2 separate regions of the Homo sapiens genome follow, and region 1 is linked to region 2. A link means that fine-mapping ties the variant in region 2 to the expression of a gene that starts in the linked region. Tissue or cell type: whole blood. Region 2 holds a variant in brackets; the other region holds the start of a gene. All regions are shown on one strand. Distances are from middle to middle.

Region 1 (5,150 bases), 260 kb before region 2:
ATTTCAGAAGTCTAGGCACTTGTGTAATATATAAATATATATGCAGTAATTATAAAGTCAATGGAAGTTACTGATACCATATTTCATCAAGTCTAAGAGGAAATTTTTCTTTTCATTTCAACTCTTCCTGAAATAAGGAGGCATCCTACATCTAGGGGGATATCACAGTTTCATTGGCAGCTTTCTTCCTTGGTGGAATGTAATATAATGGTGTGTCTTAAAATTTGTTGGATTTGTTGAAATACAGAAAATACATGTAACAAAAGAATGAGGCCAGTGGCTGTGTTTTAGTACACCCTTTAAAAAATCCATGTGTTTTAAGCAGAAACATATATGACTGCTTTAACTTCCACTCTTCCCTATCATATTCGATGATGGAAGCATAAATGACTGAGAAATATAATCAATAATGTTGATACTCAACTTGACTGAATTATCAAACTAGCTACACCCTCAAATCATTAGTTAGTACAAATTCAAAAATAAATATTCTTTTTTATTCTAGTGAAAATATTGATCTTATAGATAATAGCCCTCTTAAAATAATTTTTTTTTGTCAGATTGGTAACATTTAAGGATGTGTTTCTATGCACACCAGAGAAAATGTAGTATATAACACAGCAACACTGTTATGCAAAAAAGGTGCCTGTGTGTTTTTGGTTTGGGTTTTTCTTTTTTTAAGGATTTGTTTCTCCTTTTTTAAAAAAATTATGTAATACAAGTAGCTAATCGTCAAAAATTATTTGCTTTTACCCACAAAAACAGTTTTGCTTGTGGTTGATCCTTACAGATCCAGTCAGATGGCTACATAGGGTGTTCTTTCCAGTAAAATTCTAAGTCTGACAACCTGGGCCTATTGCCAGCCTACATACTTTAAAAGTTTGACAAGATACATAGAAATTTACTACCCAGCACTAGTTTAATCTGAATCAAAAGCCGACTTAATTATTTTGGATTGACTTTACCTAACCACTTATGGTTAGCCTGAAGAATATTAGTTTCCTATTATAGTGTTAAGGAAAGCTGATTTTTACTACAATTCTAATTTTCAGACACTGGAAAACAAGTAATTTCTGTAGCCAACGTTTATTTTGAATACCTTGGCATCCTTTCTTTGCCACATTCTTCTTAGTATTCTTCATGGAGTTCCTTTCTTTTAAAATCAATGGAATGGCAGGGTTGCCACTATTGTCCTTCTATGGTTCACATCAATGATCTGTGATTACTTTTTTTTTTTTTTTGAGATAGTCACACGCTATCACCCACACTGGAGTGCAGTGGCTCAATCTTAGCTCACTGCAACCTCCTGGGTTCAAGCAATTCTCCCGCCTTAGCTTCTCGAGTAGCTGGAATTACAGGCGCATGCATCCCTGCCCAGCTAATTTTTTAATTTTTTAATTTTTAGTAGAGACAGGGTTTCACCATGTTGACCAGGCTGGTCTCGAACTCCTGACCTGAAGTGATCCACCCACCTTAGCCTCCCAAAGTGCTGGGATTACAGGCGTGAGCCACCGCGTCCTGCCTGTTATTACTTTTTTACATAAGTGGCTATTCTGTTTTAGCCTCTTGAACAACATGCAGCTTTTACTAGGAGTGTGTCTGGCATTTGAATTAGAAAGGAAGATATTAGTATTCATTGAGGGCTTACAATACATCAGGTGCTTCATAGTCACAAATTCATTGAACCCTCACAACAACCCTCTATAAAGTAGCTCCTAGTGTTCCCATATAATAGATGAGGAAAACTGAGACTTGGCCACATCCCCATAGTTACAAACCATTAAGAAGGATTAGCAGCCAGGTCTACTATGAATCCGGAGGCCCCATTCTCTTCTGCTACCAGTTATCACCTCCTTCTACAGTTTCTCTTTGCCTTGGTTTTTCAGTTCCCTTCGATTCAAGTAACAAGAGGAAATATATAAGAAGGAAAGGAGGAAGATGGCTTTGGGAGGAGGAGAGGGAAGAGAGTGAAGCAATCTTTAATTTTGAAAACAGGGAAAACAAATATTTAGAAAGTAAAACCGATTTCCATCCTTTACATGCCATTATACATCCTATACAAAACTCTGGAAATCTGCCTATTGAGGTAATTACGGAGCACTACCTAATGTGTTTCAAGGGAAAGCTCCCCTGTTTGGGCTATGCAGGATTTACAGGGAGTTTAAATCATTAAATAACCATAGTTGACCCTTGCTTGGTTAAGAGAGTAAGCAATTATTGCAAAGTCCTCTTCCCTGCCTTCCACAAACAGCACAAAAACGGTTCTGAAGGGATTTACACAATACATCAACATCTGTGCTGTACCTAGAGTTGTTAAAATAATTGTGATGACAGGTGTCTAGGTACCACTTTCTTAATGGTTTTCAATATCCATTGATTTATTGTTTTGTGGCTTTCTCTTCCCCTTTACAGCTTTGGCTTTAAGAAAGAGCTGGGGAACAGATTTTGCACCAGAGGCTGATTCTTTATTCCAATGCTGAAAAGAACTAATAAAAATAATCACTTGGCTTTTAAGCAGAAAGCTTCCATTTACAGTATTTCACCCTTACCCCGCCCCGTTCCAAGCCCCTTGTTATCTAACATAATGGTTAGAATACATTTCCGTCTCTCCCCTTAATAATTTCATGCATTAACATCCTCTTCACACACTATACACACACGCACGCGCGCACACACACGCGCGCGCACACACACAGCAAAAGGAAAAAAGAGGCAGCAGAAATCTCAGCTGTACTTCTAGCCCTTTTAAAAAGTTTGCTCTGTAAATTGGAATGAGGTCAGATTTGGAGCTTCTCATTGCACGCGGAGATTATTATTGCATCGGGTTCCAAGCCAATGGGAAGCCCGGGGGAGGGGTTTGGCATGAGGAAGCGTTGGTTACAGCAGCTGATTGGCTGCAGCCAAGACTGTGAAAGGATAAAGAGGCGCGAGGCGGAATTGGGGTCTGCTCTAAGCTGCAGCAAGAGAAACTGTGTGTGAGGGGAAGAGGCCTGTTTCGCTGTCGGGTCTCTAGTTCTTGCACGCTCTTTAAGAGTCTGCACTGGAGGAACTCCTGCCATTACCAGCTCCCTTCTTGCAGAAGGGAGGGGGAAACATACATTTATTCATGCCAGTCTGTTGCATGCAGGCTTTTTGGCTTCCTACCTTGCAACAAAATAATTGCACCAACTCCTTAGTGCCGATTCCGCCCACAGAGAGTCCTGGAGCCACAGTCTTTTTTGCTTTGCATTGTAGGAGAGGGACTAAGTGCTAGAGACTATGTCGCTTTCCTGAGCTACCGAGAGCGCTCGTGAACTGGAATCAACTGCTTCAGGGAAAAAGAAAAAAAAAAAAAAAAGACTTGCCTGGGAGGCCGCGAGAAACTTGCATTGGAAGCTTCAGCAACCAGCATTCGAGAAACTCCTCTCTACTTTAGCACGGTCTCCAGACTCAGCCGAGAGACAGCAAACTGCAGCGCGGTGAGAGAGCGAGAGAGAGGGAGAGAGAGACTCTCCAGCCTGGGAACTATAACTCCTCTGCGAGAGGCGGAGAACTCCTTCCCCAAATCTTTTGGGGACTTTTCTCTCTTTACCCACCTCCGCCCCTGCGAGGAGTTGAGGGGCCAGTTCGGCCGCCGCGCGCGTCTTCCCGTTCGGCGTGTGCTTGGCCCGGGGAACCGGGAGGGCCCGGCGATCGCGCGGCGGCCGCCGCGAGGGTGTGAGCGCGCGTGGGCGCCCGCCGAGCCGAGGCCATGGTGCAGCAAACCAACAATGCCGAGAACACGGAAGCGCTGCTGGCCGGCGAGAGCTCGGACTCGGGCGCCGGCCTCGAGCTGGGAATCGCCTCCTCCCCCACGCCCGGCTCCACCGCCTCCACGGGCGGCAAGGCCGACGACCCGAGCTGGTGCAAGACCCCGAGTGGGCACATCAAGCGACCCATGAACGCCTTCATGGTGTGGTCGCAGATCGAGCGGCGCAAGATCATGGAGCAGTCGCCCGACATGCACAACGCCGAGATCTCCAAGCGGCTGGGCAAACGCTGGAAGCTGCTCAAAGACAGCGACAAGATCCCTTTCATTCGAGAGGCGGAGCGGCTGCGCCTCAAGCACATGGCTGACTACCCCGACTACAAGTACCGGCCCAGGAAGAAGGTGAAGTCCGGCAACGCCAACTCCAGCTCCTCGGCCGCCGCCTCCTCCAAGCCGGGGGAGAAGGGAGACAAGGTCGGTGGCAGTGGCGGGGGCGGCCATGGGGGCGGCGGCGGCGGCGGGAGCAGCAACGCGGGGGGAGGAGGCGGCGGTGCGAGTGGCGGCGGCGCCAACTCCAAACCGGCGCAGAAAAAGAGCTGCGGCTCCAAAGTGGCGGGCGGCGCGGGCGGTGGGGTTAGCAAACCGCACGCCAAGCTCATCCTGGCAGGCGGCGGCGGCGGCGGGAAAGCAGCGGCTGCCGCCGCCGCCTCCTTCGCCGCCGAACAGGCGGGGGCCGCCGCCCTGCTGCCCCTGGGCGCCGCCGCCGACCACCACTCGCTGTACAAGGCGCGGACTCCCAGCGCCTCGGCCTCCGCCTCCTCGGCAGCCTCGGCCTCCGCAGCGCTCGCGGCCCCGGGCAAGCACCTGGCGGAGAAGAAGGTGAAGCGCGTCTACCTGTTCGGCGGCCTGGGCACGTCGTCGTCGCCCGTGGGCGGCGTGGGCGCGGGAGCCGACCCCAGCGACCCCCTGGGCCTGTACGAGGAGGAGGGCGCGGGCTGCTCGCCCGACGCGCCCAGCCTGAGCGGCCGCAGCAGCGCCGCCTCGTCCCCCGCCGCCGGCCGCTCGCCCGCCGACCACCGCGGCTACGCCAGCCTGCGCGCCGCCTCGCCCGCCCCGTCCAGCGCGCCCTCGCACGCGTCCTCCTCGGCCTCGTCCCACTCCTCCTCTTCCTCCTCCTCGGGCTCCTCGTCCTCCGACGACGAGTTCGAAGACGACCTGCTCGACCTGAACCCCAGCTCAAACTTTGAGAGCATGTCCCTGGGCAGCTTCAGTTCGTCGTCGGCGCTCGACCGGGACCTGGATTTTAACTTCGAGCCCGGCTCCGGCTCGCACTTCGAGTTCCCGGACTACTGCACGCCCGAGGTGAGCGAGATGATCTCGGGAGACTGGCTCGAGTCCAGCATCTCCAACCTGGTTTTCACCT
Region 2 (5,150 bases):
TAAAAGATGGAAATTATGACACATGCTACAACATGGATGGATCTGAGGACACTGTGCTAACTCAGATAAGCCAGACACAGAGGGACAGATATGGTATGATCTCAAAAATATGAAATATTTCGAATATGCAAATTCATAGAAACGGAAAGTAGCTTAGAGCTTACCTGGAGCAGGGGTGGAGGAATGGAGTTACTGTTTAATGGGTACAGAGTTTGTTTTGCAAATTCAAGAGTTCTGTGGCAGGCTGCTGGTGATAGAAAAACAATGTGAACAAATGTGCTTAATGCCACTGAATTGTATACTTAAAAATGGCTAAAATATGGCGTGTGCCTGTAATCCTATCTACTAGGGAGGCTGAGGCAGGAGAATTGCTTGAACCTGGGAGGTGGAGGTTGCATGAGCCGAGATTGTGCCACCACACTATAGTGGGAGACTGTGTCTCAAAAAAAAAAAAAAAGGCTGAAATGGTAAATTTTATGTTATATATATATATATATATATATATATATATATACACACACACACACACACCCACCCACAATTAAATTTTTTTTTTTTTTTTGAGATGGAGTCTCACTCTGTCACCAGGCTGGAGTGCAGTGGCATGATCTCAGCTCACTGCTACCTCCGCCTCCCGGGTTCAAGCGATTCTCCTGCCTCAGCCTCCTGAGTAGCTGGGACTACAGGCGCCCACCACCACGCCTGGCTAATTTTTGTATTTTTAGTAGAGACGGGGTTTCACCATGTTGGTCAGGCTGGTCTCGAACTCCTGACCTCATGATCTGCCCGCTTAGGCCTCCCAAAGTGCTGGGATTACAGGCGTGAGCCACTGCGCCCGGCACACAATTAAAATTTTAAAGAAATCTTCAGGGAAAGGGAGTACTACTAATACTAAGTTTTTAGAACTTACAAGTTATATAATACAAATTGGTCATTTGAGCTGATTTTCAATATGCTGACACATGCAATATAAATTGCAAATATGTATGTCACTACCACAACATCTAAAAGAAGTCAAAGATGTACACAATGTTTATGACAAATAAAACTATTGCATGTAATGTCAGAAAAATATCCCCCAAAAAAAACCCAATTAGATTTGCTAATTTGTGGTATTTGTGTGTCTCCTGTACAGACATTTTCTCATTTGGATTCCTGACACTTGGTAAATAAAATTACTATTATTGTTCTCTTGTTTCTTTGAATTTGGAATTCCTGGAACACAGGAAAATTTGATACACGTCCTAAAAGAAAAAGAGGAGAACAAACTGAGTGCTACTTAATATGGGGGCAGCACAGTGGCTCACACCAATAATTCCAGTGCTTTGGGAGGCTGAGGCTGGAGGATTGCTTGAGGCCAGGAGTTCCAGACCGGCCTGGGCAACATAGCAAGATCCCATCTCTACCAAAAAAATAAAAATTAGCCAGGGTGGTGGCATGAGCCTGTAGTTCTAGCTACTTAAGTAGGTTGAGGCGGGAGGATTGCTTGAGCCCAGGAGTTTGAGGCTGCAGTGAGCTATGATTTCTTCACTGCACTCTAGTCTAGGTGACAGAGTGAGACCCTGTCTCTAAAAAAAGAAAAATATAAGTAAATAAAGTGAGTATGCATGTCTGAAATTTGTTTACCTGAATGTTCTGATTTAGTGGGTCTGGCGTGGGGCCTGAGAGTCTGCTGTGCTCACAAGCTTCACCTGAATCCCTACTTCGGAGGTCCTGGGAAGGCTTTGGATGGTTCTGCTTTCATCACTGCTAGTTTAGGATCCACGCTAAATCACGCTGGTTACTTACCATGAATCAGTTTTCTGGCTTTCGTGATATTGTTGCTGCTGTCATCTCAGTCTTCTTGTCCTTGTAGATTTCTGCATTCTGAGAAACTCCTTTAGTTTTATTTTAGTGGAGTATTTTGATAGGGCGAAATGAAGGGAACTGAGGTGGCACTCATTTTTAAAAGGAAGTTCCCAATTCTGTTTTCACTTTTTTTCTGGCTAAGTGCTCATTGTTGGGG[G/A]AGGGGAGAACACTGACTAATTTAGCAGAATCAGCAGCATGTATCAGCATTCCCCTCTGACCTCAAGTTTATTTGAATCAATGTTGATTGAGCGCTAAGTATGTGCTGGGCATTGTGCTTATCCTTGATGGTTGGTAGATATGGTCCCTGCTATAATGAAACTAGTGCTATATGCTTTAACCCAAAAAAGGAGGGTGGGGCACACAGATGACACAATCTTGACGGAGCATGTTCTTACAGTCTGTTGTATGTGACAGTTGTGAAAGCTGCTTCCTTAGACCCCACCCCCACTGTCTCACTCGGCAATTTCAGTCTCATCCCCAGATTGTTCTCCTTTATCTGTTTTTATGATTTCTACCCCTTTGCTATCCCGGTTGAAGTGGAAAGTTTTAAGCCATAGAATATGCTTGTTTCTGTGAAGGGTCTTTCTAAATTGTGTCCATGCCACTACATCATTCTTACTTCAGACAGAATAATTGCTTTCTAATTTGGCAGAGTTAGGGGAAATATAAACATGCCCTTATTAGCATTGTGTGGAAGAAGAATTCTGACATGGCCCCCATGATTCACTCCCAGACCCGTGTTGCATACACACCCTGAGTAATCCCTGGAACTATGTCTGTGATGAATTTACTCCCTTGACTAGTTATGTTCTATGGTATAATTGACCTTAAGATCTGGAGAATATCCAGGTGAGTCTGACTTAATCACACCAGCCCTTTAAAAGCAGAGAGTTTTGTCTTGCTGCTTGAGGAAAGAGAAGCTGGAGATTCTTAGCATGAGGAAGATTCAAATGCACCTTTGTGAGCTGAAGATGGAGGGGGCTGTGTGGCAAGGAATGCCGGCAGCCCCAAGGAGCTGACAGCCAGCAAGGAAGTGGGGATGTCAGTCCTACAACTGCAAGGAACTGGATTCTATTAATGACAAGAATGAGCTTTTAAGGGGCTTTTTCCTCTAGAGGCTTTAGATGAGAACTCAGTCCAACACCTAGATTTCAGCCTTGTGACACACTGAGCAGAGAACCCAGTCATGATGGGCTGGGCTTCTGACTTACGAAACTGTGAGCTAGTAGATGCCTGTTGCCTAAGCCACTAAGTTTGTGGTAATTTGTTATGCACCAATAAAAAACTAATATACATATTAGTGTGCAAATGCATTTGAAAAAGAGTCTACAAGTACATTCGAAGAAGACTGTAGAAGGCTTGCCTGTGAAAAACCAAGCTAATGCTGCTTAGCCAGCTGGGCAAAGAAAGTCTAGCTACCTTACACATAATAGGAATGTAAAATGTCATCGATACATAGGAAGTATCAAACCATGGAAAGGGCATAGATTTAGAGAGAAGAAATATGAGCAAGTCTTGGCTCTCTTACTTCCTAGCCAGGGGAGGCCATTCCTCTGAATCTCACCTATAAAATGAAGGGGTTGACCAGATGCATCTCATCACAATGTAACCCCTGGTTTTATTTAGCAAGCGATGTACTCATTTCCATAACTTTCTGTGGTTTAGCCTAGCCCTGACCCACTGGGTATAGGATAAGGGTTGTTGTCTGATGGATGTCATTTTTGGGTAGTTTTTTTAAAAGCAGCTTAAAATTTTATGGGTTTTTAAGGATCAGTCCAAAATATTCCTGTCTCAGTACAATAATCTGATATTTGCATCAAAAAGCTACCGCAAAATATATTACTTGGGGCTGAGGCAGGTGGATCACTTGAGGTCAGGAGTTTGTGACCCCAGCCTGGCCAACATGGTGAAACCCCGTCTCCGTTAAAATTACTAAAATGCCGGCGTGGTGGCTCACGCCTATAATCCTAGCACTTTGGGAGGCTGAGGCAGGCAGATTACCTGAGGTCAGGAATTCAAGACCAGCCTGGCCAACATGGTGAAACCCCATCTCTACTAAAAAAAAAAAAAATACAAAAAATTAGCCTGGTGCAGTGGCGTGCGCCTGTAATCACAGCTACTCGGGAGGCTGAGGCAGGAGAATTGCTTGAACCCAGGAGGCAGAGGTTGCAGCGAGCCGAGATCGTGTCACTGCATTCCAGCCTGGACGACAAGAGCGAAACTGCATCTCAAAAACAAAAAACAAAAAACATGCACCTAGAAATTGATCTTTAAAAATCTGTTTTTGAAACTCAGGGTGATTCTGACTAGAAGCATTTCTCTGCCTGGAACACCTGCTCATCAGAACTCATTCTTAGTGTGCTTCCACAGTGTTTTGGGGGTGGGCACATAGCCCATTCTTGTGCATCACTGTGCGTTGAGTCTGGTCTGTTGAACTTAGAATTATGTTTAAAAATCTGTCTGTGTGTCTAAGTACTGGTGTTTTACAAGAAGTGGTTGCATGGAGCATCTGTGTTGCTAGTCTTTTTCCTAGGAAATGATTCTTCTCTGAGCTTAAGGATCTTGTTCACACTGCAAAATAAAAATCTGTAGAAAATTAAGGACACTCAAGTTATAATATTTCAGGGATATAATGATATTTCAATGGGAAAATGCTAATTATGGGGAGCTTGCTTTCCCCCAACACCTGGAGCTTCTTAACCTGCTACCAACTAGCTGCTGATTTTCATAAATAGGACTGTACGAGGGGAAAAAATCCCTCATCAACTCAGCCACCAGGAAGATGCTGGAAAGTGTCTGTCAGTTGTTTAAAAGGGAGAAAAGGAATACCTCAGCCGCCTCCCAGGATGCGTGAAGCCTCCAGGAATATCAGCCAACCTGGGCTTTCCGCATGGAAAACAAAGCTGCCTGAATGGGTATGTTTTAAGACTATAACTTCTGAGTTGCTCTCCTGGATATTTTCAAACACATCTTAAAAAGGCAGGTGGACTTAGTGGCTCACACCTGTAATTTCAACACTTTGGGAGGCTGAGGTGGGAGGATCGCTTGAAGCTAGGAGTTCGAGGTGCGGTGAACTATGATTGTGCCTCAGCACTCCAGCCTGGGCGACAGAGTGAGATCCTGATTCTAAAAAAAACAAAAACCAAAAAAAGGCCAGAGGCGGAAATGCCTCACTGTTGTGGTTCATGATTCCATCACAGACATTAATGAAACCTTCTATCCACCCAAGGGGCACACCACTGTTTCCCCCTCCATCACTTTTAATTTTGCCCCAACGTTGCCAGCCCTCACTTGACATCTGG

What was found. PIP is the estimated chance that this variant, and not a neighbour inherited with it, causes the effect.
Region 1: SOX4 starts here. The variant in region 2 is fine-mapped to the expression of SOX4 in whole blood (TOPMed, PIP above 0.99).

The regions. Positions count from the first base shown.
Region 1 is chr6:21,590,805-21,595,954 of GRCh38, forward strand. It overlaps SOX4 (SRY-box transcription factor 4), which reads left to right and starts at 2,947. Exons shown (of 1, transcript NM_003107.3): 1 at 2,947-5,150. The coding sequence starts at 3,731. RefSeq lists silencers at 3,558-3,737, 4,508-4,597, 4,648-4,697.
Region 2 is chr6:21,854,006-21,859,155 of GRCh38, forward strand. The region is part of intron 4 of CASC15 (cancer susceptibility 15); the gene reads left to right. Among named protein-coding and RNA genes, the nearest start is that of CASC15, 190 kb to the left of the region's middle. RefSeq lists a silencer at 2,413-2,707. The variant G/A (reference allele first, on the strand shown) is at 2,006.